4 separate regions of the Homo sapiens genome follow, and regions 1, 2 and 4 are each reported to be linked to region 3. Evidence: microRNA targets listed by miRTarBase, many of them from high-throughput screens and not tested one by one. Region 3 holds a microRNA gene; each other region holds the end of a gene's coding sequence.
Evidence for each region. The annotated mature microRNA hsa-miR-6881-3p reads AUCCUCUUUCGUCCUUCCCACU and lies in region 3 at 2,344-2,365, opposite strand. An mRNA with a match to its seed (bases 2 to 7 or 8) in the 3' UTR can be bound and repressed. Matches are read on the target gene's strand: a 7mer-m8 pairs with bases 2 to 8, a 7mer-A1 pairs with bases 2 to 7 and ends in A, and an 8mer does both.

Region 1 (7,118 bases), not on the chromosome of region 3:
GGGAGCAGCGGGGTCCCGGAGAGATGGGGCTGCCTGGGCCGGCAAAGCCACCTCTAGGGACCCTGGCTAGCGTCCCACCTGGGCTCCTGAAGTGTGAGATTGTGAGGGCGGCCTCTGCTGTGGGTGACAGTGCTGCCTGAGGCTGTGGTGGCAATTGGCGTGGTGCACTCTGTAGCATGGGTTGTCCAGGGAGGTGTTTGTGACAGGCTTCCCAGGGTCACGGGTGCTTGGGAGAAGCAGGAACAGGGCAGGGTCATACCAGGTGGACCAGGACAACCAGGGCTGGGTGTCCGGCCTCACGAGGACAGACCTCCCACAGCAGGCAGACCCTGCTCTCCTGGCGCTCAGGGCTATGGGTACTCCAGCCAGGCCCTCCTGGGGATCTGATCTCAGGGCCCTGGGGGCATGGTTTGGACATCTGATAGGGGCAGATTACAACTCTGAAGACTTGGCAGGCTCCGGACTTACTATAAAGCTACAGTACTCACGACAGGGTGTTGGCAAAACAGACCAGTGAAAGCGGAGAGAGAGCCCAGAAACAAATCCGCATGGAGAGTCAACTGGTCTGTGACAAAGCGGCAAAAGCAATGCAATGGGGCACAGCCTCCACCAAATGGAGCCAAACAACGGGGCGTTCACATTCCCAAAATGAATCCCAACACACACATTCCACCCCTACAGCAATTCACTCAGAATGATCACAGACCTAAATGTGAAATGCAAAACTATCAAACTCCTAGAAGATAACACAGGAGAAAATCTAGATGACCGAGGGTTTGGTGATGAGTTTTAAAAACACAAGACTGAGCCCAGTGGCTCCCACCTGGCATCCCAGCACTTTGGAAGGTTGAGGCAGGAGGATCAGTTGAGCCCAGGAGTTTGGGACCAGCCTGGGCAACACAGTGAGACCCTGTTTCTTTCTTTCTTTCTTTTTTTAATAAGGCGGGGGCGGACCACAATCCAAGAAGAAACCAGTGAGAAACTCGATTTCATTAAGATTAAAAACTGCTCTGTGAAGGCACTGTCAAGAGAATAAGAAGAACAAGCCCCAAACCTGGAGAAAATAACTAGAAATGAGATATCCATGAAAGGATTACGAGCCAAAATTTACAAACAACTCTTACAACTCAACAAAAAGAAAAGGGACAACCAATTTAAAAATAGGCAAACATTCTGAGCAGATACCTCACCAAAGAAGATACGCAGATGGTAAATAAGCCATGAAAAGGGGCTCAGCATCATATGTCAGTAGGAAATAGCAAATTAAAACAATATACCACTACACACCTATCAGCTGGCCAAAATCCAAAACACGAACACCACCAAATGCTGGTGAGGACGTGAAGCCACAGGAACGCCCATTCATTGCTGGTGGGAACACAAAATGGTGCAGCCACTTGGGAAGACAGTTTGGCAGCTTCTTGCAAAACTCTCACCATATGATCCGGCAATCACACTCCCTGGTAAATCCCCTTTGGGATTTACCCAAAAGAGGTGAAAATGTATGTCCACACCAAAACTTCCACACCGGTGTTTATAGCAGCTTTATTCATAAATGCCCCAAACTGGGACAAGCCTAAGATGCTCTTGAGAGAGGGTAAATGGATAAACTGTGGTAGAGCCAAACAATGGAATATTATTCGGCACTAAAAAGAAATGAGCTGTCAAGCCATGAAAACACACAGAGGAAATATAAATGCTATTACCAGGCGAAAGGAGTCAATCAGAAAAGGCCACATAGTGCATGAGTCCAACCACATGACATTCTGGAAAAGGCAAAACTGTGGGGACAGTAAAAACCATCAGTGGTTACGGGGGTGGAGGGTGGGGGAGGAACGGGCAGAGCCAAGGGTTTTCAGGGCAATGAAACCATTTTGCATTCTCTGTAAATGGCGGACCCGTGTCCTACATTTGTCCCAATCTACGGAATGGCTAACACCAAGAGTGGGCTCTAACGGATGCCGTGGACTCGGGGTGATGGCGCATCCGTGTGGGTTGGCTGCCTTAATAAATGTGTGCTCTGGCGGGCGGGGGTGTGCGGGGGTGATGGTGAGGGAGGCCGTGCATGCGTGGGGGCAGGGAGTGTGTGGGACTCTCTGTACCTTCTGCTCCATTTTGCCATGAAGCTAAGACTGCACTAGAAAATAAAGTCTATTTAAAACAAAACAGAAAAGGTGATGTTGAGGGAGCCCTAGAGGAAGACGCTGGCCAGCAGTAGGTGGGAGGGGCCTGGGAGAGGGCGGGCACCAAGGTGGGCGTGTCAGGTCCGTGAGCCTTGGGCCTCGCAGCACGCACTGGCCTGCTCATGCCCAGAGCCCACCACCTCAGAGCCCGGGCCTGGCCGGGGAAGGTGGAGGGCACCCATGAGGCCCCCATCCTCTCTCCTGACACTCCCAGTGCAGTGGGGAGACAGATGACAAAGCTGTGATACATGTGTACTCACAGACCTCGAGATCTGTGCAGCGAGTGGCCCAGGGACCCCTCCTCAGCCAGGGCGTGCTGGGAAGTCCTCTCTGCAGAGTGATGCTGAGAGCCGAGAGACAAGGGGAGCCAGTAATACAAAGAGGGGGGCTGGTCGTCCCAGGAGGGAGGGATGGAAGGTGTCAGGACCAGATGTGGGGAGTAGGCATGAACCCGGTCTAGGCACAGGAGAGGAAGGGGGTGGCTTGGACATATTTGGAGGCAAAACCCATAGCTGGCGGCAGAGGGAGGGGCAGGGAGAAACAGGTGGCTGGGACCAGTTTCTCATGGGGATCTGGGCACATGATGGCCCCCAAGACAGAGACAGGAAGAAGTACGCGTGGGGGGCCCAGTCTGGATATGCTGAGTGGGCGGTACCCCACTCCAAGTGTAGTGCACAGAGAAGGGCTGGAGTTACAGGCCTCCTTGGGCAGGGGTCTGAGACAGCAAGGAGCTCAGGGGGAGAAAGGGAAGGAGCAGCCTTCAAGAGAGCCTGGAGGTCAGAGCGGAAGACGTCCATCCCCAGGTAATGAGGGACTGGGAGGGACAGTCAGACCAGGTCTGGGGAGAAGAACACCAGGAAGGAAGAACAGGTGGGAATGGAGAAGCAGCTGGGAGTGGTGGGGGGGTTGGGGGTTGAGTGTGGAGGAGCTGGGAGTGGTAGGGGTGCTGGGGGTTGAGTGTGGAGGAGCTGGGAGTGGTGGGGGAGCTGGGGGTTGAGTGTGGAGCAGCTGGGAGTGGTGGGGGTGCTGGGGGTTGAGTGTGGAGGAGCTGGGAGTGGTGGGGGTGCTGGGGGCTGAGTGTGGAGCAGCTGGGAATGGTGGGGGAGCTGGGGGCTGAGTGTGGAGCAGGGGACTGAGTGTGGAGCAGCTGGGAGTGCTGGGGGAGCTGGGAGTGGTGGAGAAATGGAGAATGAAGAAAGGATTATCAGGGAATGGGGCATGTCCACAGGTGAAGCTCTGGTGACCTGGACAGGAGGTGAGGAGGTACCCTGGAAGGAAACAAGAGGGACAGGGCAAAGGGGTGGGGCATGTGGAGACCAGAGAGGGCTTCAGGAGAGGATAGCCCAGACTCTGATGGCACCAACAGGAAGCAGCTTGGTGAGGGGCCGCCTGCCCGTGGTCAGCCCCAAAGACAGTTCTGCCACGCCCCCTGGTGGCAGCACCTAAAGCCACAACCACGTTCCAGGGTGCACAGCCTGTGGGATGCAGAGGCCTCTGGGATGGCAGGACGGGCTGGTCCCGGGAACCATGCATGTCACCAGCGCCCCTCCCTCCCCACGCCCTGACCTTGAACCCCTGGTTAGCTCCTGTTCCCACTGGACCCCTTGTCCCCTTCCTTGATCACTTTATGCATGCCTGGCACTGCCATCCTCCTTCCCAGCATGTCCACACCCCCACCACTGCCAGGGGGACTCCATGGCTCACCGGGCCACATACTGGCTGCCCCCACCTGAACTCCAGGACGAGGGCATGCTCGTGACAATGCCCTTGGTACCTGAAGGTGCCTGGCACGCAGCAGCCACGGAGTCACTGTCCAGTGAACCCAGGACCAAACTCTCCTGCAGTGAACCCAGGACCAAGCTCTCCGGTTCTGTCACGGCCCCTCTCTGGGCTTCCCAACGTCCCAAGATCTATTTCTAGGGCTGGGGTTCTGGTGCTGCGCTGCCCGGAGCTGAGTCCCAGCCAAGCCCTACAAGCTGCAGGGCCCTGGGGGGAGCAAAGCCTCATCTGCAAGTGGGGACACTGAGGACCCACAGGGCCACCTGGGCTAAGGGCAGATGCAGGTGAGGACAGGCCTGGCCCAGCAGAAGCACCTGCGTGTGGGGCGCCACACTGGATCACCTCAGAGAGAGCGCGCAAACAAGCACGCAGCCAGTGCCTGCAGGAGGCTGAGAGGCTCTGGGGACAGTGCCACCGTTCCAGGCCCGAGCGATGGTTTTGCGTATTTGCTTTGTGGAAACCCCAAAGTGAATGCTTGTGACTTGTGCACTTTTCCATACACTCACACACACGTGAATAAACATGCGTGGTATACGGGTACCCCCCCTCCAGCCATGCAAAATGTGTCCCTACCAGCCTATGAGAAAGGGGAGGAGCCCCACCTTACCCTGGACATGGGAGGCTCCTCCGCTGCTGGGGACAGGGTAATCCTGGCCCCAAGGCGAGTGCTGTGGGCGTTTGCAGCGGGCGTGGGCGCCCGTGAGGACTTCCTGAGGCCCGGCCTCCGTGGGAGGAAGGCCACTGGAGAACCCAGCTCCCACGGAGGAAGAACCAGAAGTGTCCGGCTGAGACCCGATGCAGGGTGCACCGGGGCCTTCCTGCCTTACCCATGGGCCCCCCACGCCCTCTCAAGGCGGTAGAATGAATCCGCTGATTCCATGCAGTGGGTGGGGAGGGCCGAGGGGGTGTGGTGGGTACCAGTGCAATTGAGGGTTCGAGTCTTGTGGGACCAGGGCCTGCACCCCCATTCCGGGCCCAGCACCTGACACACAGGGAGGTGCAAACCAGACCACACGGAACAGCCACGCCAGCAGCCAGAGTGGGCGTTTCCCACACCGCCACCCAACACTGGGCAGCTCCTGCCACCCACCCAGCGTGGGGCCTCTCAGGCTGGCCTGGCCCTGGCTGCTCAGGCAGAGACAGACCCAAACAGCAACAGATATGTGACACTGAGTGAAGCGTGCAGACACCTGACTCCCACCCCAAATGTTTTCTTCCCCAAACAACCCTGAACACACAGATGAATGCAGCACAAAGTCTAACGCCAACACACTTTATTTCCCTTCGGACGCATCTGCAAGCTTCTGCCACACCTGAACCCACGGCCTGGCACCAACGCTACCATCACTCCCCAGAGGTCAATCCTGGGGGCTGAGGGGCTGCAATTTCCCTTTCTTCCTGAAAATTAAGAGAACTGAGACTAATTGAAGAAACCTCACTGCCATTCCTCACTCAGCAGTCTCAGCAGGTCTGAAATGTGGCTGTGGGAAGTTGCCATTTTGGGAAGGCGTTTATTCTCTGCGGCTACAGGGATTGCCTGCTTTAGAAATCCCCTTACGCTGATTAACTCAAAAGTCCCTTCAGAGTCAAGAACCAACCTTTCATGGTCCATAAATGTGGTATTTCTGGTTTCCTGATCAGGAGGCTTGCAAACCTAAAAATGTTCTTCCTTCCAAAAACTAACTAACCTGAAGTATAAAACCTCAGACGGCAGAATTTTCTATTTCTGGAAAAGCTGGCTGCGATTTGTTTTTGGGACACAGTGAGGCAAGTCCCTGTGGCAGAGAACGAATTGGCCCCTCGGCCTCTGTATGTGAGAGCAGCCCAGCCACACCCAGGAAGAAACATCCCCCATGCACTGCAGCACATCCTCCTTAGAGAGAGAACGCCTGCAGGTTTCGGCAAAGAAAAAAAAAAAAGGGCCTGCCAGACTCCCAGCTGGATGGAAAGCAGCCGACAGCTCCTCAGCCAGAGGGTGAGGCCAAGTCCTGGCGCCTAGCTGGGCCCCGTCCATGCGCGTCACTTTCCAGTGAGTTCCAGCACCTTCCTCACCATGGCTCCGATCCCATCATGGATGTAGTGGAGTGCCGTCTCGCACATGAAGGCTGGGGTCGTGACCACCTTGTTTTTCTGGTCCACGTGAGCTTCGTGTGCAGAGTTACGGAAAAAGCCACCCAGCACGGACCTGAGGGACTTTCAGGTGTGGAGCCCCGGCCCCTCCCCCACCCTCACCGCGTGTCCTAACTTTGTTCTCAGATAACTTGGAAGAGGAGAACTCGCTCCTGGTGCAGTCTGTGCCGGCAGGACCCTGCTTTCTGTATGATTTATGCTGCTGAACAACATAAGAAGGAACCTGTTCCCAATTCACATGCATTCTAGAGGAAGAAAGCAGCGGGAAATTCCAGGGAACGGGGCACCTTTCATGCCAGCATCACACAGGCCCAACACCCACACATGGCCACGAGCTGCCCCGCCATGGGGGCGCACACATGCCTGGGGTGCTCACAACCACCACGGGAGGCAGTGGCAGCACCTCCGCTTTTCAGATGAAGAACTGGCCGTGAAGGAGCCGGTCCTCATGGGGCAGGGCAACAGGCAACAGGGCAGCAGGTGGCACAACTGGGGCCGGCCAGCCACAGACCTGAGCCTCCCCAACACCATGCATGTAACCACTGGCCAGGCCTCCACACCACCCAAGACACGTGCCCCTATCTTCCTGCAAGCAGTCAGAGGCCTGGGGCCAGCCTTGCACTGCGCTCCTGCCCAGCAGGAAAGCCGCAGGGAGGGAGATGGGGCCTGACGTCTGAAGCTGCCTGTGAGAAAAAAGCTGCCCCATTGAGAGGAACTGCACCCTTCAGAACAACACCTGCAGGGGACCGGGTCCATGCTCTACTCATTCCAGTGCCTTCCGGCACCCCGGAGTGTTCTGTTCTCTCAGTTGGGCTCACATGGACATTCTCCCAGATCCAGGCAGGGCCTTCCAGGAGCCTCCCTCCAAATCTCCCTGGGCAACAGCCCCGCTGGTGTTCTTGGTCCATCATCTCAGAACTCAGGGTACACACCTCAACAGGAGGGGCTGGGGGCCGCAAGGCTGGCTGAATCACCTGGCCACCCAAACTGGCCTGAGAACTTCCGCCCAAATGAAGCCAGGAAGCC
Region 2 (7,118 bases), not on the chromosome of region 3:
AAATAATTTGATCATCTCAATAAATTCAAGAAAAGCATTTGACATAATTCAACAGCATATACTTTCTTAGCAAGGTATAAATAAAACTTCCTTAAACTCATAAATACCACCAAAATCCTACAGCAATCACTATGCTCAACGGTGACATCCGAATGCGTTCTCGCTGAGATCAGGAACAAAGAAAGGAATTCCATTCTGACCACTTTTTGAGACAGGGTCTCACTCTGTCACCCAGGCTGGAATGCAGTAGTGTGATCAAAGCTCACCTCCTAGGCTCAAGTGATCCTTCTACCAACTAAGCCTTTTAAGTAGCTGGGACCACAGCTGTGCACTGGCACACCCAGCTAATTTTTTGTAGAGATGGGGTTTCACCATGTTGTCCAGGATGGTCTCGAACTCCCGGGCTCAAGCAATCCTCCCACCTCGGCCTCCCAAGGTGCTGGGATTACAGGTGTGAGCCACTGGATCTGGCCCACTCTGACCACTTCTATTCAACACTATACTGGGCATTTTGGCCAGTGCAGTAAGACAAGAAAAGAAACCAGCACTTTGGGAGGCCGAGGCGGGCGGATCACGAGGTCAGGAGATCGAGACCACCCTGGCTAACACGGTGAAACTCTGTCTCTACTTAAAAAAAAAAAAATACGAAAAATTAGCCAGGCGCAGTGGTGGGTGCCTGTAGTCCCAGCTACTCGGGAGGCTGAGGCAGGAGAATGGCGTGAACCTGGGAGGCAGAGCTTGCAGTGAGCCGAGATAGCACCACGCAGTCCGGCCTGGGCAAAAGAGCGAGACTCCGTCTCAATAACAACAACAACAACAACAACAAAAGACAAGAAAAGAAAATACAAAATGACTAGAAATAAATAAGTTATTATGAACAGATATGAGTATGCAGAAAATTCCAAGAGAATCCACAAATTGTTAGCATTAATAAATGAACTGAGCAAGAGAGCTAGATATAAGGTCATTATAAAAATCAATAGTTCAATACTGTAGCAACAAATAGTAAACAATTACAGACCTGAATAGACTTCACAAAATGGTCCAAATGGTCAATAAGTATTTGAAAAGATGCCTAGCATTATTAGTCACTATTAAAATTTAAACCACAAGATACCAGTATATACTTACCAGAATGTCTGAAATGAGAAAAATAATAGGCTGACCAGGCTTCTCCAGAGGCACCTTCTGGGAGAGCCAGTTCTTCTCTTCGTCTATCAAGTGCTTCTTGGGGGTGGAAGAAGTTAAAGGAAGTGTATTTCTGGACCAACACATCCTTAACTGCAGGGACTGGATTTCTGACATCAGACATATATAGTAACTTGCATTTGTTTCCTAGAGTTGCTGTAACAGATTACAACAAATCGGGTGGCTTTAAGACAACAGAAATTCATCATCTCACCATTTTGGAGGCCAGAAATCCAAAATCAAGATGTTGGCAAGGCACCATTTCCTCTAGAGGCTCTAGGAGAGAATACCTTCCTTGTCTCTTCTAGCTCCTGGAAGCTGTCAACATTACTCGACTTGTGGCTACATCCCTCTCTGCCATCTTCATGTTGCCTTCTTCTGGTATCTTCCTTTGTTTCTCTTACAAGGGCACTTGTGATGGCATTCAGGCCCCACTCATAATCTCATCTCTAAAATGCTTAATTACATCTGCAGAGACCCTTTTTCCAAATAAAGTAATATTTACAAGTTCTCCAGGGATTAGAGCTTGATATTTTGGGGTAGCCGTTTTTCAATTATACTTATTTTCTACTTAAAAAAAATTTCATTTCACCAGTGCCATCTGATACAAATATAAATATGTGTATTTTTTCTTTTCTTTTTTTTTTTTTTTGAGACAGTTTTGCTCGCTGCCCAGGCTGGAGTGCAATGGTGCAGTCTTGGCTCACTGCAACCTCCGCCTCCTGAGTTCAAGAGATTCTCCTACCTCAGCCTCCAAAGTAGCTGGGATTACACGACCCCGCCACCATGCCCCGCTAGTTTTTGTATTTTTAGTAGAAACGGGGTTTCACCATGTTGGCCAGGCTGGTCCTGAACTCCTGACCTCGTGATCCGCCTGCCTCGGCCTCCCAAAGTGCTGGGATAACAGGCGTGAGCCACCATGCCCGGTGAAGAAATATATTTTCTAAATAAAGAAACTAGTGAGACTGTGGAGAGATGGTCAGGGGGACAGAATGGCCTGGGAAAACCTGGTGAAGAGGGGGTGAACTGGAAGAAGGTAGAAGTCTTAGCTATAATGGGAGTAACATTCTCTGGGTACCGAGGGAAAACTGTGAGGAGATTTTAAAAAAGGAGCTAAAGTAGAATTTCCTTCTACTTTGCCAGGGTCCTGGGATCTAATCCCATAAAAGTGGCTGTATTTACATATACTGCCCAAAAGAGGGGGCAATAGGCATGCTTTCGTAGACCCAGCTGGCTGCCCATTTGAAATCTATTCTTTCCTTCTTCACTGAAGAGTCCTAAATTTGTTAGGAACATCAATTGCTCAGATAAAATAGATAATTTCCAAGGCACCCTTGGAGCTACCAGTCATGCAACAGAGGTCTAACTAATGGGATGTAAGTACAAACATGCAAGTGGAGCTTCTGGAAACTACTGTTTTGTTCTCTTTGCGTAGAAAGAGACACATATTTGCACCTTTTCCTTACCTAAGCCTATCCTTTTCACCCCTACTTTTGCCATCCTTGACAGCATCGTGGAGGAGTTACAGTATCAGCCCCGGACAGTTTTGTCTGTAGACTTTTCTACTGTAAGAAGAAAAAGAAACAGACAACAATAACAAAAAGACAAGCCCCAATTGAGTTTAAGCCACTGTTAACTTGGTATGCCATCAAACACAATTTTTTAAACCTAAACAATAGCTATGGTGTTTCACAGATTTGACATAACCAACAACAAATGGACCACTCCAATTTTTCTGGATAGTTAAAAAATAAGGCCTTCACACCAACACAGGTCCCAGACTGGCACTCTCGAATGACTAAGTTTGTAATTATTTCATCAGTTCCATACATTTATAATTAAGTACAGAGAAGATTAATGTAGATTCTTTATTGATTCCACCAATGTATTAGTAGATATGATAATAATAAATGGTATTTTTACATTCTCTTAACCAAAAATATAACAAATATTTACACTCAGTAAAAATACAAAAAGCATACAGAGGCACTGTCTTTCTAAAAGACATAAGTTTAAGAGGTATCAAAAAATAGGAGACAAACATTGCTTGTTACAGGATACCTTACAATCAATGAATTGTGCAGTAGAATTGCTATCTGATTATTACAGATGTGCAGTTTTGTTTCTGTCTTTTGCTGATTAGCTTACATGTCTCAATTTTAAAAGATCAAGTTCAACTGCATTCTGTGTATCAAAAATAAAGAAGCATTAAAAATGCACAACAAAAGTCAAAGATGAACCAGGATTCAAGTTTAAATTTGAACATGTACTGTGACACTTTTGACACTTTTCTGAAGATTTATCCCGTTTTTCTAGCCTTTAAGGTAATGCTGAAGGAATACATATACTTTAATATCACCTTTTTTAGAAACTTAAAATTGAATCAAAATAATCAGTTTTAAGGAAGCTTTTTCTCCTCCTTCCTTTTTTGTAGAGGAAAGAACACTTGATAAAAATTAGATTTGTTCTTAAAAACACCCATGATTACCATCACATTTTCAGCCTGGGAGAGATTCTCAAGGAGGTGATATAGATCGCAATGATGTGATTTATCACCCTCAAGAAAATTCACTAAAGGCTTTTTCTCCCCAAAGATCATATTGAAAGTAATCATTTGGAGTAAATTAGAATTATTAACTTTAATAAGCTTTTATGGAATCATGTACTGGATTTACTAATTCTCAAAATCTTTCACTATAAAGATATTTTGTTGAAACTTACTATTTGGCAAAAGTTTGCACTGAGCGTTAACTGCTTCAACAGTCTTGGCAGATTGAGAGTTGTGGCAGGAAGAGAGGGCACTAGTCTCTTCATTAAGATTATAAATTTATAAAACAAAAACAAATGGAGATCTGGAATTGGAGTAAATGCAGCTTAAGACTTCTCTTGTTCTAGTCATATGACAAACTAAGAGAAGGCAGGAATGTACCCTTAGTTAAAATATAAAAATCAAAACCTCATGATTTTTTAAGGGATACATACATAACAAACTACAAAGCATTTGGCTTTGGCTCCTGATCAATGTGATCAGCTGATCTGAACACTCACAGTTAAAGCTAGATAGATAAAACAAAGGCAGCTGTAAGGTGCAAGTCCAAAACCATAGGCCTCAACACTCTGTGCAAGATATTTACACTATTAAGGACAAAGACAGGTAAGGCTTCCATTTGGTTTGAAAGACCTGCTAAATAAAGACATTATGAAAACAGCACATTTTTCTGGGGAAATGAATATAAAATGGTGAGAGTAGACATCTGAATTTGATAAAAAAAGTGGGTATAGCAAAAATATATTTCACATTGTTTTGCTGTGGCCATGAAAACAAAATTATGCAAATCAGTGAAGGAAAAAATGTATAATCATAGGACCACTGTTTATAGGCCAAATCACTGAAGTGTAACTTTCAAACTAGGATTTTTGGTTCAGGTTATTTCCCATTTCAAAGGACCAAGAAAGCTATGGAACCACCAAGCCTCATTCTATCATACCTGCGATTAATTTCTAAGGCTTAAGTTTCAGATTAATGTTTCTTTACCACAGGAATTTTTGAAATGCTATTATTCCTAAAATAAAGAGACAATCATGTTGATGGGAAAGATGAACTACTACCATTTACCACTTACAACTGATTCATGATTTTAAAATGAAGGGGGATATGCAGGAAGACAGACAGCAGAGACAGCTAGGGAAAGACAACACATTTCTATAAAGGAGGCCACAAACCAACTAAATCCTATGTGGACACATACGGACAGCCATTCAGAAGTAAACCCCTTTTGGCTCCAAGTTGATCTGGGTAGTGCACGTTAATGGCTTTGGCTTTTTTTTTTTTTTTTTTTTTGGTAATTACAGAAGTTTATTAAAATTTCACTTGCTTTTACATTAAAAAAACTGAAAAAATTAAACTTAATATATATAAAATATATTTAATTTGCAAAAATGTGAAAAATCTGCCTCATCCAGTAAACAGTCACTGAAATTTTAATTAAGAGTGCCATACCCATGAGGCTGGAAAAGTATGTCCTCTCAAGGGCTAAAAACTGAGAACCAAGAGACAATCATTTCTGTAACTCCAGCTCCTCTTTCTCCCACAAAATGTTACTGCAGCCAGCTGAGAGCTGCAGGGTATGTCAGGTCAGACACAACCTGGTGCTATGAGATGTGGGGGAGGCATGCTGCAGAACACTGCATAAAGTCAAATTCGTCTTCATTATTACAACACCCATGATAAGAATTTCTTTAAAAAAAGTATTCCATACTTGAGTTATGAGAGATTTTAGTTTTGGGTTTCTATAGACCAGAACTCTCTAGAACCCAGTCTCTATTTGTTGGATCTATACTTTCAGTTACAATTCGATGCAGCATAACTTTCACTTAAGGAAGAATTTGTATACATGTCATTTAACATCAAAATTTCATTCTGTGGAAATTAGGGTTCCCACCCTCCTCCCCAAACTACTCCCTCCCATTTCCCAAAGGACTGACAAGAAACCCTGTGGCAGCTTCATTTGGCCTTCCACACCATGACCAGCAGGTTCCTAACACCTCAACTGCAAAGGGCTTCCTATTTCTCTCAAACTGAGACCTACATTGCATTGGTGCTACAGATCAAGTCACATCTCTGTGTAGATCAAGCATATCACCTCTGTAAAGATGACTTCTGTTTGGTCAGACCAGAGACAATTTTATGACCTCAAACATGAATATCAGCTAACAAGAGCTCTCAAATACAAACAAAACCACAACAATTCAAATAATAAGTTATTTTTCAAATATACAAGAATATCCTTGGTATTGGCAGACAATTTCAATTTGTCCTTCAGCCCAAGCTATGGCTTGGAAATAATAATGCCATTATCTTTAAAATAGCTTGTTAAAGAAAAATCTATAGCAATATACACAAGGATCACTCTGAGTTTACATTTTTTCTGTAACTGTGGTCCCAAGGCAGTTCCGGCGTGCAAAGTGGAGACTGGTATCCAGGCATAGCATCCATTGCTCAGGAAACTATTTATCTGCAGAAATTAAATGAAAGGAAGCATAACTCAGGTCTATTTCATTGCTCGGAGTAGAGGGAATAAAACCTCTGGACTGGTTGTAGCAATGAGCTGTTCGTTAGCAATGGCCTGCAGAATCATGAGGTGGTTCTTGCCCATTCCTCCACGACTTTCAGTGGTTTTCAAATAGGTCATCCAAAGGCTAGACTGCTGAAACTTGTTCATTTTCTGAAAATAAAAAATATATAATTAACTGGCAGATCAGCATATTAATGAGATCCTAATAATCTAGTTATCTATTTAGAAAATCAATGTCAACAAAGAAATCCTCTCAAACATTGCATCGAGGCCCAGATTTTATTATAATAATACCTATGATTTCTGATCACATTGAAGGTTGACAATAAACTGGAATTTCATGGTTTTTAATCATTTTATTACTCTTGTTTAAAAGCATAAATTTTCATTTATTTTCAATAAAACAATCATTTCTCAAACTATTGGCACAGGTACAAAGTCAGTCAAGACTTTTGCTAATAAAAGGAACTATATCAATAGAATCATTTCAGATAATTTGGCATTTGAAACACAGTTTCAAGTTTCCATGCATTAAGGTAAAATACAATTCCATTAATGTTAAAAGTATCCCATTAGATTGAGCCACTGTTTCATCAAAGATAAGAATATTCCATTTGAGCCACAGGGTACTAGGCACACAGAAATAGGCAGCTTGCCCATTTCATTTAAAAAATACACCATCAGTGCGGGGTACAGTGGCTCACACCCATAACCCCAACTTTGTGGGAGACTGAGGCTGGCAGATTGCTTGAGTCCAGGAGTTCAAGACCAGCCTGGGCAACATGGTAAAATGCTGTCTCAAATACAAAAAATTAGCTGGGTGTGGTGGTGTGTGCCTGTAGTCCCACCTACTTG
Region 3 (7,104 bases):
AGGCTGGGAATGGGGAAAAGGGGTGCACGTGCTATTGGGGCTCTGGGGTCAAGGCTCGAGCAAGCAGCACGCTGCTGAGGAGTCGTGGGTTCAGGTCCCCATTCCTGCCTCTCACTAGCTACAGCCCTGCTGAGCTGGCTCCTGGGCCCTAACCAGGACATGAAAGAATGCATGTGATGCTCACGCAGCCAGGGGGTGGCGAGTAATAAACAGGAGCCCCCACCAACACCCCCTGACCAGGACAGCTTTGCAGGCAAGGAACAGGCGCAGGTAAATAAATAGCTTGTTTATTAGTAATATGTTACATTATTAAAGTGCATTGAGAAGAGGTGCAGGGGCCAAAGCTGGAAGGCCACTGGCCCCAGCCACTGCCCTGGGTGGCCAGACACAGCCGGAGAAGGGCCCAGCTCCCCCCTGAAATGGATGGACAGGGCTGGGGGCAGGGCCGCCTGCCTGGAGAGCTCGGCCCAGGCCATCCCCACCGGAATTTTCACAGTTTAGCCTAAGTTATAACATGTCCTGAGCGAAGGTGGGAGGCTAGGAGCATGGAAGCACAGCCCCTGGGGAAGGGGGCTGAGAGGAAGGGAGGAGGCCCCCCGCCCCCCAACCCTCAACGCCAAGGGCAGAGTCCTGGAACCTCCCCCTGAGGACCCGGCTCGTCCTTCCAAATGAACACGGTGAAACTAGGGCTCAGTTTTCTCCTTCATTCTCCCGTTTCCCTCACCCCACCCCCTCCCATAACCACCCCCAACACTAGGGGCTCCAACAACGTCCCCCTCAGACCGGGCTCCCAGGGCAGAGCCAGCTCATGCCACTCTCCAAGAACCCATGCCCGTCTCCAGACTCTTATCTCATCCCCGGGAGCCTCAGACTGGGATCACCCCCGCTCCCCAACCCATCCCTTCCCAGCCCCTCCCTTTCCCACCCACCCCCCCGCATGTAGTTTTGGTATTTTCATACAGATGCAGTCGGAAGTAGCTATACATGAAATAAGCCTAACATAAAAATAGAGCTTTTTCCGTCCTTCCGTCCGGAAAGCAAACATCCTTCAATAAACATGCAAGGCGGCTGTCCTGTGGGACCCAGGACCAGAGAGGGAGCTGCAGAGGACAGGGCTGGACAGAGGGTAGCCCTGGGTCTTCAGGAACACCAGCCACCCAGCCATGAGAGAGGGAGGGGAAGGAGGCAATGTGGGTACCAAGAGTCCAGAAGGACTCAGGCCTCAGCCCCAGGGTCGAGATGGAGTCCCAGCTCTCCTATCCAAACCCACTCCCCGACCCATGGGCTCTTGGGCTGGGAGCATCGCTGCATTTAGTCAAGTTTGAGGAGTCTGAAAAATATTTTCCAGAAGATAAAGTCTTGGGTCATCGATGCCCCAGCTTCACAGTCGGTGCCCTCATTCTCAGCCCCTCACCATCCGTGCGCCACCTGGGGCCCAGCAGCCGCCTGCGGCTGGACGTCTCCAGGCCTGGCATCCTCCACTGGGTTATTCTGTCCCCTGGAAGAAGTGGCAGGCAAGGAGCTCCCGGGCCAGCCGGCTCTGAGTGTGAGACGTTCTAGTGCCCTGGGCTGCAGAAGCCTGAGGCATGCCCAGCCTCGGGAGGCCCTAGTGGACCAGCAAGCCAAGAGTGAGTGTGGGCAGCACCCCCAGCCAGAGGGAGGCGGCCAGGGCACAGGCATGACCCAGCAGGTGCTCGGCCATGATGCCGTCCTCGGGCAGCAGCTGCCAGTGCTGAGCCTCGCGGAAGTAGGAGCCCTCCTGGGCCTCGCAGAAGTAGTGGCCGTACTGCTGCGCCGTGAGGTTCTCGATGAACAGGATGCAGTTGGGGCTCTGGTGACCAGGTTCGCAGCTCTGCTCCACGTTCTCCTTGTGGCGCCATGAGTAGGTGGCGTGGCGGGATTCCATGGGGCAGCTCAGGTAGTAGCGAGAGTTTGGGGCCAGGGAAACCTTCTGCAGTGGGGCCTTGTCTGGGGAGGCAGTGGGGAAGCAGCCGTGAGGAGGGACAAAGAGCTCCCAGGGGAGGATGTGTCCTCCCCACGGACTGGGATCCCAGGACAAGGCTTCTGAATGAACGTGGGGAACCCAGCCCTCAGCGTCCTCCTTTTTTCTCCCGTCTCGCTCATCCCACCAAGAGGGCTCCCTCTGCAGGACTGTATCCTGCCCCATGTACCTGGGGCCCACAGGACAAGGCCATGTCTCCCTCAGACCAGGACAATCAGGGCAGGGCAGTACCCCACTCATTGGGCCACAGCCGCCAGCAGGGCCAGATCAGGTACCTGGTTTGGGGTTGGGACACTCCTTGTGTGGCTCGGCTGGATTAATGGATTGCAGCACTGACCTGGAGTGGGAAGGACGAAAGAGGATCAGCAGATACAAGGCTGCAGACCTGACCCTCCTATCCTTACCCCAGTGCAGTTCCAGCAGAGAGGAGGGTCCCACAAGAAAGGCCCAGTACCGCCACCTCCTCCAGCCCGACAACACCTCCCCCTCTCCCATGCCCACCTTCTCCCAGGGACGAGGGATCCCGGCCAACGTACCGTTCGGAGCTGTAGATGGAGATGCAGCGGCCTTGGTCCCAGCCGCAGTAGGGGTCTCGGGACATGAGGCAACCGTGGCAGCCCCCGCCATAGACCTCACACAGGTCCAGGGGCACCTGGCTCACCTCCCACTGGGAGCTCACATACAGCTTCCTCTGGAAGGACAGCAGGATTGGGTCAGGCCCGGGCCCCACCCCACACTCAGTCCTAAATGTCCAGGCCCTAAGGCCTAGAAGCTCTTAAAAGAACACACAAATCACATGCAAAGGAGCCCTGTCCTCAGCTGCAGTCACTGCATAGCCCATGGGACGCAGTGGGGGAAGGCTCACCCGCTCAGCATCCAGCGACATGGTCTGGATGGCAGCCGCGCGGCGGAAGGGCTGGATCTCCATGATGTTGAAGGCGAAGCTGTGCTCCTGCTCCCCCGGTTCCACCACCTTGTGGATAGTGCCCCTGTCTGTGTATGGTGGACAGAGGGTCAGTGGGCGGGAGTCCCACTGAGGGGCCAGGCAGCTTTCCTCTAGGCCGGGGAGGGGTGGGAAGTCACAACTCAGGCAAGGGTCACAGGACTGGTGTGGGCAGGGCGAGGAGAGCGTGACTGGGGAAGAATGTGGGAGCCTAAGGGCAGCCTGGAACCTTCCAAGGCTGATCCAGAGAGGCCATCCCAGGAGGCCCAGGGGTCCCTGGATACGGCCTCCAACATTCCCAAGGCTGCACGGGAAGAACAGAAGCAGGAGCCCCACACCAGCAAGGTCAGTGCGGCTGCTGTCCATGCATCACCTCGTTTAACCCTCCACAGCCCTGCGAGGTGGCTGTCATCTTCCCCACTCCACAGATAAGGAAATCAGGCTCAGAAAGGCTAAGCCACTTGCTCAAGGTCACACAGCTGGTGAGCAGCAGAGACCGAGTTGGAACCCAAATCTGTCAGAGCCCAACCACTCAGCTGCTTCTACAACTCCCCTGCCTCCTGGACTCTTAGGGAATATATTTACTTTAAATACATTTTTTTTTTATTTTGGAGTAATTTTAGATTCCCAGAAAAGTTGCAAAGATAGTACAGAGAGCTCCAATCTACCCTTCTCCAGTTCCCCCTAATGTTACCATCTTACATAACCACGGTATATTTGTCACAACTAGGCAACTGACATTGGTGCATTACTATTAACAAAACTACAGACTTTATTTGGATTTCACTAGTTTTTCCACAAATGTCCTTCTTCTGTTCTAGGATCCAATTCAGGACTCCACGTTGCATTTGATCTTAGGGGATATCTTAATTTTATAAAATCTTAGATCTAAAAAGGATCTTGGATTCTAAATCAAGAGTTCCCAAGGTCTTATAACCGAGCTGCCTGCCTCCTAGACCAATGCTCTCTCCGTTCACAATTAGGGACCAATGGGCACCCTGACCCCTGGTCCTCCCAATCCTACCTCACCTGCTCTCCCAGTTTCTAGAATAGCCTACCTCCCTCTCTCCCTCCCTCCCAATTTCCCAGGGCATCACCTGCCCCAAAAAAGCAGTCAGATGATTGCCTGCCTAGGATGTTTCCTCTACACATCCGTGATCCTCATCTGTGGACTCTGAGATGTGGCCAGATGCTCCTTGGGCCTGATAAGGCCCCACCCCAGCCACTGCCTTCACAGACATACTGCCCTATACCTCCTTCCAAACCAGCCCCAGTAACAGCATACCCTTGGCAAAATTCTCAGGAAAAGAGCCAATACTTCTCCCAGTTGTGAGAGCCTCCCATTCTCTGCAGAGGACTTAGAAAGCTCTATTTTTCAGTCTAGCCCAAATACGAATGATGCAGGCTCCAAAATGGTGCCTCCTCCACTGCCCTTAGAACGAAGACACCTTCTCTAATCACTCAAGTGTGCTCACCTCCCAAGTCTGCAGGAAGGGAATCCATGGCCCAAGTCCAGCCTTCCTTGTCCTAGCTCCTGCTCCCAGTTCCGCACTGTGTGACCTCTCCTCTTCTGCTCCCCAGTGCCCTGCCATCCCTGGCTGACCACAACAGCTGTGCCAGCCACTACTGGAGCCAAGCAAGGATGGGGGCCCAAGGGTGTAGCCGGGATGAATAGGGAGTAAAGAGGCAGGGAATCAGGACCCAGGCCCTGCCCTGTGGGAAATTCCTCTCCCCAAGGCTTCCAGGAGCCAAACAATGGTGCTGGGGTTCCAGTTTCCTACAAGGTCACCAAAGCCGAGACAGTTCCAAGGTGAAGCAGCAACAGGAGATCACATGGGGAATGTGAACAACTGAGGTTGGGCGCCTGGGCCTGAATTGAATGGCCCCAGGGGTGCTAGAGGCCCTTTCCAGTCTCAAGGAAGGCAGCTGGCATGGGAAGCTGCGACAAACCCAACTCAGGACTGGCTCCTCCGTGTCCTGTGGCTTTCCAGAAAGCAGGAGCATCTCCCACGGCATTCCACCCAGCTTCCCCCAGCAGGGCCTACTCCAGGGAAGAAGAGAAGCTGCCCCTGTCCTCTGTGAGATGGCAAAGGTTCTGCCCCCTGGAACTCCTTCCTCATACCTAATTTGTGCCCCATCAACTCCTCAAATGTTTCCTCTCACCTGCACAATCCCAAAGACAGGCGCAGGGCCTGACTCCCTCATTCTGCCTGGCAGAGGCCAGTATCCCTGTGGTTCAGGCCCCTCCTCCTCATTTGCCACGTCTCTTCCTACCATCTTCTTCCCTGAGTCAGACATCTGGACCAAAGGTGCACCTGGCTTTGCTCAGACTCTCCAGATTTCCGCCTCCAAATCCCAGTGCTTGCTTTTCTCCCATCCCCCTTTCCCTCTTGCCCCTACCTCCTCCAGGAAGCTCTCCCTGCCTGACTCTTCCACACCCACACACATTAACCCCTGACAACTCCAGTCACTCAATTATTCCTTCCACATGTAAAGATCCAACCAGATGTTAACTACATTATTCCTTACACCTTTCATGCCCGTTTTTACAAAGCAAACTGAGGGTCCCGGGGTAGCCTCTCACCTGTAGTTAGGTAAAGCACATGAAAGGTCTCCCCGTGGCTGGCTTGCATGCGGTGGACGGCCACTTTCTGGTAGTGGTATTTAGAGTGGAACAATGGCGTCTTCAGAGGCCCCATGGGCTCCACCCTCTGCGCCACCTCTGGGTGACGGTCAGCCACCTGGAAGGTCTCTGTGGGTATCGGCTGCTGGTCTGGGAGGCACTGGGCAAGGAGAGCAGGCCCAGGTCAGTGGGGTGGTGGGAGGTGAGGCAGAAGGAGGGCTGGGCCTGGGCCACGGCTGGTGTCACGCTCACCTTGCCAGGCCGCGGGTTGGGAAGGCTTGAGTGGTAGCCCTTGAGTGAGGAGGTACGGAAGACCTTGTCAATGTCACCGAGGGAATACACACAGACGGCTGAGTAGTTCCTGCAGTGACATGGAGACCAGCTCAATGGGGGGCCCAGAACCCACCCATCCACCTCCACTCACCCAGGCCAGCCTTGTGCCTGGCACTGAGTTGCCAACCACCACTGAAAATGGGGAGGGATGGAGAGGAGGAAGGAGAGGAGTTCAGCCTAATTTCTTTGTGCTGCAATTTAAAACCACAAACTTGTATCCTGTTACAGAATCACTGAGTCTAGAGGCCATCTGCTCTACCCAACCCCAAGGCAGGAGGAACCCCATCATAGGCTGAGCAGTTCTCTAGCCCTCCCTGGGCACAGGCTGTGGGGTGCTGATGCCCCAGGAGGCCAGACCCCCAACCCCTTCCCAGCCTGGGGGACCCCACTCACCCAGGAGCCACAGAGCAGGGTCTTGGCTTCCTCCACTCTATCCCTAACTCTCCCCACACACACCCAACACTTCCGCCTGCCGTGTGTTCAATCAATGAGAGTGATTAAGAAGTGTGAATTATCGGGCTCAGGCAGTGCCTGAGCAGGTGTAATAGCACCCAGCTCCCCGAGAGATGCTTCAGCAGCTTCCTCCTGGGCCCAGTGTCCACTCTCGGCACAAGCAGGTGGTGGGACACACAGGCACAAGTGCAGTCATGAGTGTGCATATAGGGCATGCACACACACCCATGAGTGCAGACTCACTCACACAACAGTACATACATCGCACTGGCTGTCCCCCCACCCCACACCCAGCAACAGCCCAGCCTCTTGAGCCTGCAGCCCCTGCTCCTGCCACACCAGGGAGGCCCTCAGCAGGGCCCAAGGCCTCCTGTCCCTACTGGACACTGAACCAATGCCAGCCCCGGCCCCAGGACAAGGGCCACTCACCAGGGGTTGGAGAAAACACCATAGACCCTGGTGTCCCTCCACTGGCCGCTGGGGTCAGGGAGCAGGAAGACGTCTTGCAGCCTGTTGAAGTTCTTGTTGGTGGCAGCATCACTGCATACCAGCATGGCTTTCAGAAAAGTGTTCCACTTGGAGACTGACAGTGAACTTTCCCCACCCTGGTCCCCCTGGAAGGGTAGAGGGGAGAAGAGGCCCCTCAGCACCTGCCCGGGCTTCCCCACACACCCCAGGAAACCACTGCCAGCAATATCAACACCTGGGCCCAGAGGAGGAAGGCAGGCTGTGAGGGGCCAGGACCTGCCG
Region 4 (7,118 bases), not on the chromosome of region 3:
TTTATAATCTTGACAGGGGGAATGAACAAGAAAGTAGAGAAGGGGAAGAGGAAAAGAGAATAAAACTGCATTGGCCTCTTAACTGTCTCACTTATTTCCTCAGGCAATAAGCCTTATGTAAATGTACGTGATGAATACCATGAGATAACATACAACCCAGTTATTTTGGGTGCATAGTAAAGAATCTCATATTTGTTGCTGGAATTAGTGATGATTCCTATAGTAGTTTTGAAGGAACAGAATTACTCAAAGGATCTGTAAGGAGCTATAACATAAGCTATTACCCTTGATTTTTAATGTAAACAAACTCTCTGGCCCAAATCTGTATTTAAATGAAAGTGGCAGAATTTGACAATCTCATAGACTCAGTATGATTTTATGATGCTTTTGTGACTATGTTACATTGAAAGCTTGGTATCTTTTAAAGCTGCCTCATTGGAAAAGGGCACAGAAGGTGATTTCAAAGTTACTTTAATTTAATGACCACTCTTATTCAATTGTTTTCACAGACCATAAACAGGACTGAAGAATGTCTGTCTGAATCTTTGCCTTGAATGAAGAAACTTCATTGAACAAGAAGTTGGCTTCCAGTTTGCACAGACGTCAATGGAATGCATTTTTTTGTTGTTGTTGTTGTTTTTTTTTTAGTGTTATACCTTACCCAATGAAAGCAAAGTTTTTATGTGCTGTGCAAATGGTCTTCATGTGGTCTGACAATTTATTTTTGCCATCATTTTTTTAATTAAAGAAAAAATTTCCAGAAGAGGAAAAAAAAACTACAAAAAACAAAACATTGAAGGTTGATATTTTATGTGGAAGAACATTTGAATTGAATTCAGAATTTTTCTGAAGGTGTAGATACTTTTTTTTTTTTTTTAACAGAAAACCTGATGTCAAGAGGTGGGCAATAGAAATGGAAACAAATTGTCTTCCTCAATAATTAAGCTACTTTCTCTTTTTCCCTTCTTGTTTTAATCTAGTGGGTTTTTTATTTTATTTTTTCTTAGAAATATGTAGGTAAGGTTTATCTTGAATCTTAATTGCCTTAATTTTAAGGACGTCAAAGGCTCTCGAGGCAAGCTGTCAACGTCTTGTTGAAAACAAAAATCAAGAAAGAATTGAAATACTGTGCCGGCTTTCACTGGCACAGAAGTTTAAGACTATGAGTTTTTAGGGTGAAGAAAAAACTGTACAGTTTAAATGAAAATGTTTTTCTTCATTTGAAGAAAATTTGTTGATAAACCATGGCAACTGCAAGAATTGGAAAAATGCTGGGACTTTTCATGAACTTTGTCTTAAGTGTTGACATGAATCATTCTAAAAGGCTAAAACATTTTACAGTAAAGTTATTAAGGTTGGTTTAAAAACAACTGCATTAGAAATAATGCGTGTTTGGGGGGCAGAATGCAGATTTTTTTAATTTACAAAGCGTGATCGCTAGCAAAAGCATTAGTGCTTTTTATCTGCAGTCTTTTTTATGAGCTTTACAAAGTTTTTAGTCAGCTTTGCTTGTCACATTGCAAAACCTAGCTTAAGAGCATTAAAAAAAAAAACTTAAGTAGATAGGAGCTTATGGTCAAAAAGTGCAAAAAAAAAAACAAAAAAAAAGCAATAGATAGAGAAATTGTTGACAATTTCTGTAGTCTTTCCTAGTTGTGATCAAATTCAGCCTATGGATGGCCTATTTTATACCAAAGATGAAGTGACACCCTATTACAGTCCAGAAGATAGAGGTTGTTTTCGTTTCTTTTCTTTTTAAAAAAAAAAAAATTTATTTGACCGACATGGCCGGACCAGTTCTTTCTTTGTTGTTTGTTTAAACTACCTTCCACTGGTGTTTTACATAGTGCAAAAAAAAAAAGAGGGTGGGGGGAGTTGTCTCTCTTTTCTTTAAATGTGTATTCATTGATAGCAGAAGCTTGTACCTGCTGTGTTTAGCAGTTTCAGCATGAAGAGTTCTGGATATGAACTGATTCATAGAGCCAAGTGGCTTTAAATTCTGTGAGCTTTTCTGGTTTCTCACTAGCTGTCTTGAATAGTGAAACCTGTATTGATGGCCACTAGTAAACCAAGATGCTTATTTAACAGGTGGAATATTCTTTATATGAAATTTCAGCTAAAGACACTTTCTGGACCTGGTCTGAAAGGTCATTTGTCAAAAAAGCTTAGGGATATTCTGTGAAATGGTGAGTGGTCTCCTGGAAAGGTCTCATTGTATTTGAACAATAGTCTTCCCTCTAAATTACAACACCTCTGGGTTTTGTCTTTACACCTCTGTCTTTGTCATCACCTACCATGAATAGTCACCTTGGTTTTGCAAATGGGGAGGGGGTATCATCTTTTTGCCTGTTTTCACTGTATTTTTGTATATTGGTGTTGCCGAAAGAACTTTTTCTTTCAGTTTAATTCTTTGAGGCATGTAGGACCAATAAGATTGAGAATTCTATTGGTGGAATTTAGGGAAGTCCTTAAAATGCTAGTTGACAATCAAGGAACAGTATGATTTATATCAATAAGAACCAAAAGAATTAGGTTTGATCAATCATTTAAGCCAAGGAGGAATACTTGCATTTAGAACAATGCAAAACTTTGTCTAAAATGAATTAAATTGACCCACCTGTAAAATATATCTACATTTTTAATTCATGAGATGATATGTGTTCAACCTTTACAGTTTTACCTGAAATTAAGGACAATGGAATAGAATTTGTTAAGTGAACCATTCACTAGATTGCTTTCTGAATGAATCCTTTGAATCAAATAGGTGAAACTCTTTTCAAAAACTAAGTCAGTCACAGGAGCCTGTCTTAGTCCAAAAGAAGCAGGGAAATGTATTTAAGTGTACTATAAAACAGGGTAGGCTTTTTAAAAACTAAAAAGTTTTAAAGGTAAATCATATTCCCATTAGGTCAACATGAGTAATAAGGTTGACTCATGTGAAATTGTCAATATTCTACTATTTCTGTAAACTCTGGTTCTCTTATTTGCAACCCCATGCACTGGAAGCCCAAATCAGAGAATGACTCCATATATTTATGGTCACATTGGAGACAAAAGTGTATCCAAGAAAATGTAGTGTGCGTTATAGAGAAATTCCAACTGGTCACACTCACCATTATGGTTTTTCATGCTTTAGAGAAAATGCTAGATTTATACTGTCTTTTGTTCCATCCTTCAGCTTCCCATGCATTATAAAGGTGGCACTTAAGTTTTTATCTTTGAAAAGTGGGCCCCAAAGTTTTTTGGGGTACAAAAAGACATGTATGAGAACCATATTTTCTGTTTCTCTTTTTCACTCTCTAAACTCTTTTTGTATAAATAAGGATTATCCTGGGCATAATTCATTTGAATATGAAACCAACATACTTTCTTTCATTTTTGTGAAAAAATAACCAAAAACATGTATTAATGTGATACAAAGAAAGTCTCATTCACACAATCAACAATGAGGCTAAGAGGTAGCTACCATGTGGCTAATGAATGTGCCTAGGTAACTTCCTGTTTCTATTCAAAACTGCTGCTTTATTTGTACATTCAGAAATATTTTTTTCAACTATGAAATTTCAATATCAATTTTTTAAGCCAGTTTCTGCAAAAGGAAATGACCTGTCATTTGATGTGTTCATGTGTGTTTTGTGTTTGGATAGTTTATATCATGCCATTCTATAAAATGTATGTTTTCAAACCAAAAAGAAAAAAAATAGAAGGAAAACAACGGCACATACTCAAATTTGCCCTGCTTTGTCTGTTGTCTTACCTAAGACTTGTTTTGAAGAGCCAAGTCTGGGAGAGAAAAAAAAGCATCAACAGGTAAGCAGCATTACATTGTGTGGTAATAAACCAAAATAAGTTTTCAATATATACAGACAACAGAATTCAAATTTAATCAACAAAATATATTGTAGTGATTTGTTTGTTTGTTTGTTTGAGACGGAGTCTCGCTCTGTCGCCCATCCTAACTAGGACTATAATCTTTTTTTTTTTCTTTAAGTTGAAGTTAATTTTCTGTGCATTCTGGTCCACCAGATTTTCAAGCATTTATTTGGATGTTTCCATTTTTCCTTTTGACTTTAATAGCCAAGACTTAGCTTAAACATCAGGAAACAAACTAAAGCCACAATCCAAATGAGAGAAACACTGTCTCGTCTAAACTCTAGTTTCATGGTCAGTGCAACAGTGAGTTTTCTTTTAATAATGGTATGGTATTGTCAAGGGAGGCAAAGTGTTCATGGTAACTTGGAGCTCCCCAATACATGGCCATGTCTTCTAAAGACAACGTAATGAGCCCAAGTGAACTGAAGGTCATACTGGCAGGTGCTGATGACAGTTTGTCCTTGAATGCTGACATGTCTTGAATATTGCAAATGTCATAATACTCTTTTAAAACAGTCCTCTACCTGACTCTAGTTTTGCGAGGATTAGTTTGTTTCCTTGGTAGATTTCAACATTTCAGAATGTTACCTCCAAATTTCACTTGAATTACTTCCTCCTGTGACCTTAGCAGATCTGTCACATTTGAAAGCATATGACTCACTTCCACCCCCTTCTAATGAAAAACTGCATGGTGTTAAAAGCACTCTCATTAGAAATATAAGGCTGAGAACTGAAGAAGGCTGTTTAAAGCAGGAATTTCACTTTATTTTACTATGCCTAAAAATACATCTTTGGACCCCTTGCAAAGTGCTTTAAAAGTACTTTCAATTTATGCATGACTCCAAAAAAGTAATTTTTTTTTCCCAAAAAAACCTCTTTATTTAAATAATTGGGATATTTGCTAAATACCTATTTTTTTTTACAGTGGCCTAAAACCCCTATTAATGAAAAGTGAAATTTGATTTAATTAGGACTCTTGCAGTCATCTTCACGACTGAGGAGAAGTTTCAATAGGCTGTCTAGACATTATGATGTTAATAGGAGATTAAAATACATTTGGCAATTCATTTTCATTCTTAATTTGAGTGCATGAACCACTGCAGATGAGCTGATAAGCAGAAATTCTCAAGTGGGTTTCACTAATAAATGTTTTTTTATATGATTTGAAATCAAGTAAAGGGACAATGTTTATGTACGTGTATAACAACATTCAGCACATTTGAGGAATCACACACTATAATAAAGCTTAAACCTGTCATAGAACCTTGATCTATATTACTTTGTCTTCAGTAAAAAGTGAAGGATGAGATTTTGTCTTTCATGTTATTGTAGCTGGCATGCTTCAAAATTTTGAGCTTACTGGGACTGACAGCCTCTCACTTCAATCTGAGGGATTGACAGAATTTAAACAGGCTCATTGATTCTGTACACTCTACCCTTCCTGTGGCAAGTGATAATGGGATTTCATTAATGAATCAATTTGTTTTACAAATGACATCCACTGTGGCATTGGAAGACAGTTGGGTCTGACTCAAGTTTAACATTTCTTACCAAACATTCTTAAGTATGAAATTGGTCCTTTAATCCAAATGCTCTTGGTCATGGCTGTCCTTTGCGGATTACATAGCATTCAGGAAAGTACAAAAACTAAACACTAAATCCCCAACTGGCCCCAAAGACCTTTTATGATGTGAGAGACAAGAGTTCACCCCAGATTAATTTCTTTTATCATTGGCTTTATACTCTAACATATAGATACTCTCTATAGCAAAAAAGGGATGAATGGCTTTCAATATTCATTTCTGTTTATTTTTGTGAGGGAAAATAATATATCAAGAAAATTTTCTTCCACTTAGAAAGCTTTAAAGCTGAAGTAGAGGTGCAGTCAAGCTTGGATCTGCAGGAAGAACCACTAGGCCACTGAGTCATACTTGAGCTTTTCTTACTACTGCCCCAATTTCTAAATTGTGCATAAATACAATCACTCTCAATTTTTGAAGGGCTAATTATCTACTTTGTGGGTGTGTTTTGTTTTTTCTTTTCAGCGTGTAGGGCTTGGGCTCTGTTTCCTTTTATTAGCATGTCACCTGAGGGTGGAACAAACAATTGGAAATAAAATTTGATTATTTTATTTCTTATAAAGTATTAATTTCTTAAGGGGGTTTGAAATCATTGGTAAAATTAATATCAGTACATTATATGTCATAAATTTTGATTATCTATAATGTCTTTTCTTATCTACCACAAATAATTGAGAGTTGGCTAAATTCTTGCAGAATATATGGGAAAAAAATCATAGCAAAGAATTCAGCTTCCCTCAAAAGAAAGCTATTTTTGTTTCCTTCACTCCACTAAATTTGAACCAGTAGCACGGATCAACACGACTTCTGCAATGAGAGTATAACGGTAGCTCTTGGTACAGTCATATTCATATTTTTAAATCTTTCTTTGACCAAAACTATTGCATTGTTTTCATTACATTTTGACTGCGTTACTTATTAAGGCCGAATGACTTTGACACCCCCGTGGATTATTTTTATGATCACATCAAATTTAAACAATGTCCAAAGTGTAACTTTAATGTTATATTTTGTTTCAAACCCTCTGGTCTAAGATTATTGAGAAAGATGTTTTTTCCTCCTCCCTCAAATATGTTATCTCTTCATATATAAAAAAATAAGTTATTCCATGCTTTTCAGGAACTGTAAAAATTATTTCAAAAAGATATTTGAAAAAGTTTTCTCTATTCTGGACACAAATGCTTCCATTTATTTCAAAAGAAGAAGAAGAAAAATGGAATCTTAATTTAAAAAAATATATGTAGTAGTATCTGCTATGAGATATTCAGTCTCTATAAAAAAAAAAAGGGACACAGCTTCTTTTAAAACCCTTGTTTCAGTCCATATTCAACTTCATGGAACTTCTGAAACATCATTCAATTTTGAACTTTATTTAAGAGCATTTTTGTACTGCTGTCTCTGACTGTCATGGAAAGTTCTGTAATTCTAAGGTGTTTCTGGTTTTATTTTTAATTTCTTCATCTGTACCACAGTCAAATTAGCAACCATCTCCCCCATCCCTTGGGCTTTCTGTAGATCAGTGGATGTTAGGTTTAAACTTCTGTTTTCTTTGATGAAGCTTTCAATAAAAAATGAAAATAAAATCAATTGAATAGGGCTGTTGTGTTTTTCTGCACTCATCCAGAGACTGGTTGTGGGAGGAGGGCTGATAGGAAGGAGTGGTGC

Region 1: miRTarBase lists GATD3 as a target of hsa-miR-6881-3p. The part of its 3' UTR that is shown has no 7-base or 8-base seed match.
Region 2: the mRNA of RAPGEF6 is a reported target of hsa-miR-6881-3p. Seed matches in the 3' UTR shown: 7mer-m8 at 5,266-5,272.
Region 4: the mRNA of RBMS3 is a reported target of hsa-miR-6881-3p. Seed matches in the 3' UTR shown: 8mer at 762-769.

Annotation. Positions count from the first base shown.
Region 1 is chr21:44,143,813-44,150,930 of GRCh38, reverse strand. It overlaps GATD3 (glutamine amidotransferase class 1 domain containing 3), which reads right to left. Exons shown (of 7, transcript NM_004649.8): 7 at 5,220-6,110. The coding sequence ends at 5,982. Among named protein-coding and RNA genes, the nearest start is that of LINC01678, 12 kb to the left of the region's middle. RefSeq lists an enhancer at 4,069-4,728.
Region 2 is chr5:131,420,879-131,427,996 of GRCh38, forward strand. It overlaps RAPGEF6 (Rap guanine nucleotide exchange factor 6), which reads right to left. Exons shown (of 28, transcript NM_016340.6): 28 at 3,043-6,413. The coding sequence ends at 6,388. It overlaps LOC105379173 (a long non-coding RNA gene), which reads right to left and starts at 1,824. Exons shown (of 3, transcript XR_007058929.1): 1 at 1,132-1,824.
Region 3 is chr15:74,409,018-74,416,121 of GRCh38, forward strand. MIR6881 (microRNA 6881) reads right to left here and starts at 2,415; the gene lies at 2,340-2,415. SEMA7A (semaphorin 7A (JohnMiltonHagen blood group)) reads right to left here. Exons shown (of 14, transcript NM_003612.5): 8 at 6,784-6,968; 9 at 5,821-5,929; 10 at 5,530-5,728; 11 at 2,868-2,995; 12 at 2,539-2,693; 13 at 2,278-2,339; 14 at 272-1,968. The coding sequence ends at 1,607. RefSeq lists enhancers at 223-723, 367-626, 2,632-3,132, 3,133-3,633.
Region 4 is chr3:30,003,347-30,010,464 of GRCh38, forward strand. RBMS3 (RNA binding motif single stranded interacting protein 3) reads left to right here. Exons shown (of 15, transcript NM_001003793.3): 15 at 510-7,040. The coding sequence ends at 516. Among named protein-coding and RNA genes, the nearest start is that of RBMS3-AS1, 73 kb to the left of the region's middle.